Regions from separate parts of the Homo sapiens genome. Here region 2 is linked to region 1. A link means that fine-mapping ties the variant in region 1 to the expression of a gene that starts in the linked region. Tissue or cell type: whole blood. Region 1 holds a variant in brackets; the other region holds the start of a gene. All regions are shown on one strand. Distances are between the middles of the regions.

Region 1 (2,913 bases):
CAGTTATCCCCAGGTTGGACTTAGGAGTTCTTCTGACAGCATCACAAATAATTAGAGGATGCTTAAATTTTTTAAATTGACATTAATCATAGATACTTATTGGGCCATTAGAGTCTAAAAATTGGCTCTGAAAACTAAGACAAAACAAAAGAGAACTATATGTTTATTGTATAAATATTTACTCTCTTTTCTTATCTGAAATACATACTGTGGAATCATAAAATTTTATCATATATAGCCGTGCCCCATCTGCCACCCTTCCTCAGGCACCACCCACACCCTATTTTCAGATTAAAAACTGCCCATGGAAGCGAGACTTGCTTCAAGTCCTTGAATTAGTAGGTGAACCCATGACTTATGACTTGCAGTCTAGTTAATTTTCCACTACTCTTGATTGCTTCCCCCTAAATAATCAGGAAGTAGTAAGTAGGTATTTCCATTTTAAAAATAAAATGTTTATTTTCTTACAGAGGAGAAAAGCCATACTCCTGTGGCATTTGTGGCAAATCCTTCTCTGACTCCAGTGCCAAAAGGAGACACTGCATTCTACACACTGGCAAGAAGCCTTTCTCCTGCCCTGAGTGTAACTTACAGTTTGCTCGCTTAGACAACTTGAAGGCTCACTTGAAAATTCATAGCAAGGAGAAGCATGCTTCAGATGCCAGCAGCATTTCTGGCAGTAGTAATACAGAAGAGGTCAGGAATATTCTTCAGCTACAGCCATATCAACTCTCTACCTCGGGAGAGCAGGAAATTCAGCTTCTCGTAACCGATTCTGTACATAACATCAATTTCATGCCCGGTCCTAGCCAGGGAATCAGCATTGTGACTGCAGAGAGTTCCCAAAACATGACTGCAGACCAGGCTGCTAATCTTACCCTGCTCACGCAGCAGCCAGAGCAACTGCAGAATTTAATTCTTTCAGCTCAACAGGAGCAAACAGAACACATTCAGAGCCTCAATATGATTGAAAGCCAGATGGGGCCCTCACAAACAGAGCCAGTGCACGTGATCACTCTGTCCAAGGAAACACTGGAACATCTTCATGCCCATCAAGAGCAAACAGAGGAGCTCCATTTAGCTACAAGTACTTCAGATCCAGCTCAGCACCTGCAGCTGACACAGGAGCCTGGTCCGCCACCACCCACTCACCACGTGCCCCAGCCAACGCCACTTGGCCAGGAGCAGAGCTGACCTGTAAACACGTTTGACTGCTTGATTGGGCTCTTCTTATAAGCCAGCTCTGACTGGATTTTGAACGCTTGAAATCAGGCTCTCCACACCATTGACTTGCAGATGCTTCTGTGAGAGCTGTGATGGCTAACTGATGTTTATAATGCCCTCCATCCAGGTAGCAAGATGTGTGTATGTCTTGTCTAAGGTACTGATTTGTATTGAGCATTTCAATATTATTGAATGGTTTTCATTTTAATCTGCAATGTCTCATAAAGACTCGGGTAGTTTTTCTTTGGGGGCATTGATCTCAGTTTTTCTGTAAGGTTTAAATGTTCACAGCCATAGGTTATGGTCTTGCCAACCTCCCCAGTTATGTTTTTTTGTTTTCTAGGACAAAGGGAGTCATTTTGGTTGAACTGGGCAGAATGGTTTGTTCTATTTTCTTATTTTTCTTAGGCAACACAGTTGTTACCACAAGACAAGTCAGGGCTAAATATGACAGATCACAATGTATGGGGAATTTGCCCTTTTAATAATTTCCAGTCCCCTAAGACAAAGTAACCCTCAACGTTTTATCTTTATGCAGTACAGTGGGCTTATTGTGTTAACACTTCAGAAAGATTCAAACTCATAAACTCA[G/A]TATTTTAACTCAAAATTCATGTAACAAGATAGCCAAAAGCATAGGATTTCTTAAAATTCTGAATTCGTCTTTTCTGAGAAACATAAATTTACATATTTTTCAACAGAAGGCTATCAAAATTTTAATTAAGTTTAAAATACAAAATTGGATCAAGACATTCACCCTAAATTCTGAATTTTTGTCAGAAAAGAGATTTGATTTTCATGAAGGTAAAGCTTTCTTCACTATTCTGGAACATAAAACTTTATTCAGTGTAATTTAAGTCTTATATATACTCTACTGAATTCTAACTGATCTCCTGAAAATGTTGATCTACGTGTTGTGTCTGATAACTTTCTGGAGATGGAAGCTTATAATTCATTTTTATTGCAGACTAGTTAAATCCCACAAAGTGAATATCTTCTCCTAATCTTTCCTTTTTTAGAGACAGGGTCTCACTGTATCACCCAGGCCAGAGTGTAGTGGCACAATCATTGCTCACTGTAACCTCGAATTCCTGGGCTCAAGCAACCCTCCCACCTTAGCCTCCCTAGTAGCTGGGACTACAGGGATGTACCACCACACCCAGCTAATCTTCATCTAATCTTAAAACTTTGAGCCTCAGAGACTTTGTAGCCAGCATGTGTCTGTAATTGTATGATTTTTAAATCATCATCAAAAGATTAAATTATGTTTGGGTTAGGTTTTCAAGCTAAGCTTATTGAATTCTTTTACCACTTTCATGTAAGCTGGTAGGGGATTTTTGAGAAAAGAAGGTGGGCACTAGTATATCTAAATTAACAATGCTGATGGGGAGTAGGGGGTAATCTACTCTAAAATTAATAGAGCCTTTCCATCAATTGTTTTGTTTTAGACATCCTTGATTTCTCCCTAAATCAAATAAGTTATTTGGAGGTTAGAGTAATAGAGAATTCTTCAGGTTTGAGAGAAGATAAAAACATTTTGGTTGCATATTTGCTAAGCTATATTTTATTATATGTAATTCACAAAACTTCCAAAATGATATATATCTTATATGTATCAACCAAACTAATGTTAAATCAGGCCTGACTAGAGCAAAGATAACAATTTTTTACAAACACTGTTAAGCCCTAAGT
Region 2 (2,913 bases), 83 kb after region 1:
AATTAAAGTTGCCTTGCGCTTTCATTTGGTCTGGGTGCCAGATAGTCAAGTGTTAAATATAGAGAGAGGCCTCCTGAGAGAAGAGCAGACACTTCTCTGAAGGGCTTATGGTGGGAGCTCACTTCCCTGACAGCATTCTCATGCTTCTGGGCTGGATCAGTCAAAACTATCAGCTTTTTGTTTACATCCAAGCAACACTACTCCAACTAGCGTAGTCATTGGAACAAATGTTCATAGTCCTGAGGGTACAGAAGGACGACACTGAAAAGATCCCAAGGGGAAATAAAATCTTTCTATTTGAGCAAAAAGGTAAAAGCACTATGTAGTCATCTTTTTTGGCACATCAAAAAAGTCATCGTGGCACATCAAGACAGACCTCACGAAAGCAATTAATATTCCTATATTATTAGGATAACTTTGCATAATTAAAATTACATAAGTGTACAACAGCTGAAAACACAGCATTAAATACAACTTTTAAAGTCTAATTTTTACCATGTGATAACCGTATCAAATTTTGCGAATATTTTGTGAGACTTGGCAGTAGATGGCGCTCACCTTTACTAAAAGTCTGAGCAGCGCCTTAACACTAACAGGAACTTAAGAATCCAGCTCTGATGTCAGGCAATCCCGTGTCCAGGTCAGGTCACTTTTTTAAGTCTCAGTTTCCTCACTGGTAATGTGGGGGTGGGGGCCTCCCCAATGACCTCGCAACTCAGACCGCTTTTGATTCTCTGACTACAGTGGTGGAGTTGAGACAGGTCGGCTGCTGCAACCGCCGTCTGAAATAGCAATCCGGAAAAGTCAGGTTGGGAAAGTGACAGAGTAGACGCCCTGCGGCTCTGATCCGGGCGGCGCCTCAGCTGCCCACACTATGTGGGCGGCAACGCACAAACTCCTTAACCACGTGGTGCCTCCATTCCCCTAGGGAGTCCCATCACAGGATAACTTCTAGCAAAATCAATCTTCAAGAAAAAAAGAAGGGGTCCTGCCGAAGATATAAGGAAGCTCCCTGGGGATCCCGCAGCACAGCACAAACTTAGTTCTTGAGAGCCGCACAAAACCAACTTCCGCCCCAGTGGAGTTGCGTCCGGAAGGCGCGGCCCCGGAGGTCACGTGGGCCCGCGGAATTACAGCCTGGCGGGGCGCTCAGGTGGAAGCAGTAGGCCACATTATGTCGACTGTTCCATGCAAGTCAGGGTGGGGGCCGTCCCTATCGCAGGCATGAGACAAGTCCAGCTGCGTCGTGTCTGGTAATCTGAGGGCAAGAAGAACGATTTGCAGAAGCTCCCAGTTTTCTTGGCTGTGGCACAGTCGCTTTGAGGGCCAGGTTCCTTCGGCTTCCTCCCGACTCCCCTGCTTCCCCCCGTAGGATTCCCGTTGGTATCGTCCGAGCCCCACCTCCCTCCTCTTCGCCCCCGCACGCCGAAAACAGGGGCCTCTCACGTGACCCCTGCGCGCTCCCGCGGGGGAGCGTAGTCTCGGAGGCGGCGCCGCAGGGGATTGAGGGGTTGACTGAGCGTTGCGAGCCTTAGCTTTCTCCCGAACGCCAGCGCTGAGGACACGATGTCGCGGCTCTCCCGCTCACTGCTTTGGGCCGCCACCTGCCTGGGCGTGCTCTGCGTGCTGTCCGCGGACAAGAACACGACCCAGCACCCGAACGTGACGACTTTAGCGCCCATCTCCAACGTAACCTCGGCGCCGGTGACGTCCCTCCCGCTGGTCACCACTCCGGCACCAGGTGGGCGCGGGCCCTGTGGGCTTCCCGCCCTCCCCTGCCCAGCCGAGCCGCACTGCCTCCTCGCCGTGCGGGCGGGGCCCGGGTTCGGGCCACGGTCGGGCGGGCGGGCCGCGCTCGGGGTGCGGCGGCGACTCCGGCAACATGGCGGCCAGCCTGGAGTCCACTCGTGGCCGGGCCGGGTGGGGAGCGCGCTGGGGGGAAGCGGACGCGCGGTTCCCAGTGGCTGCGGGGCTGGGGCCCCCCTCGAAGTGTTGCAAGTCGAGGTGCCTTTTAAAAGTGCATCGTAATTCCTAGCCTCACTTGGGGTCGGAAATGGGGACGTGGCTTCCTTCCGCGGGGGCAGCGGTGGGGTTGAGGATGGGGCCGGGCGTCGCGCCTCTGAGGTTGGCGGTGGGGCCGAGCTGCCTCTCCCTGCCACTGGTTGTTCACCCTCCCGGCGCCTCTCTCCGGAGGTAGCCTTCTCCGGAAGTCCGGGAAAGAGAAACTTAAAGACGGTAATGCTCGTTCGTGTCTCAGACTTGAGTCTGAGAAGGTCGCTTGAGATTTAATTACATTGGTTTTGCAGATAGGAATAGAATGTAGCTGACGTTTGAGCACGTAGTTAGTGAAAACTTCACACTTCAAAGTATGCGAAAAGGAAGAAAAGTACCCATGTATGTACCGGGTGTTTTGCGTACGTATCCTAAGGCTAAACTGGAAGGTAGGTAGTGAAACCTAGGAGGTAGATGCAGAGACGGAGATGAGTAAACTCTCCTGACATTGTATGTTTATTCTTTTTTCAATTGTTTTTAAAATTTTCTTAACTATGTCCTGTGCTCAGATAGCGTATGTTTAGTAGGTCGTGGAACGGGGGTTTGTGCCCAGGTCTGTGGGTTTTCTAAAACCCGATCAGGAGCGTGTCTTTTGTTATGTGCAGTCGCATAGGGCTGGTTAAGGCATACATACATTTTAAAGCAGAAATTGCCATATACCGTGACAACACAAAAGAGAGAAGGAAGATAAGTTTGAGGTAATAAGCGGGAGAAACACTAGAGGTTTAAAACCTGCAGTCTCGTATGATTGGTTATTCTAGTTAACATTAGTTAAGGAGTAATGTTTACGTAGTTAACATTGGCTTCTTGACCGAAGAATGCCGAAGTGTAATGATTTTTATCACGGCATTCATATTCTAC

What was found.
Region 2: it holds the start of CD164, and the variant in region 1 is fine-mapped to the expression of CD164 in whole blood (INTERVAL, PIP 0.97).

Annotation. Positions count from the first base shown.
Region 1 is chr6:109,464,132-109,467,044 of GRCh38, reverse strand. ZBTB24 (zinc finger and BTB domain containing 24) reads left to right here. Exons shown (of 7, transcript NM_014797.3): 7 at 471-2,913. The coding sequence ends at 1,194. It also overlaps a transcript of MICAL1 not described here. Among named protein-coding and RNA genes, the nearest start is that of MICAL1, 9.8 kb to the right of the region's middle. The variant G/A (reference allele first, on the strand shown) is at 1,816.
Region 2 is chr6:109,381,032-109,383,944 of GRCh38, reverse strand. CD164 (CD164 molecule) reads left to right here and starts at 1,478. Exons shown (of 6, transcript NM_006016.6): 1 at 1,478-1,741. The coding sequence starts at 1,567. RefSeq lists enhancers at 861-1,090, 1,171-1,520, 1,076-1,585 and a silencer at 1,741-2,020.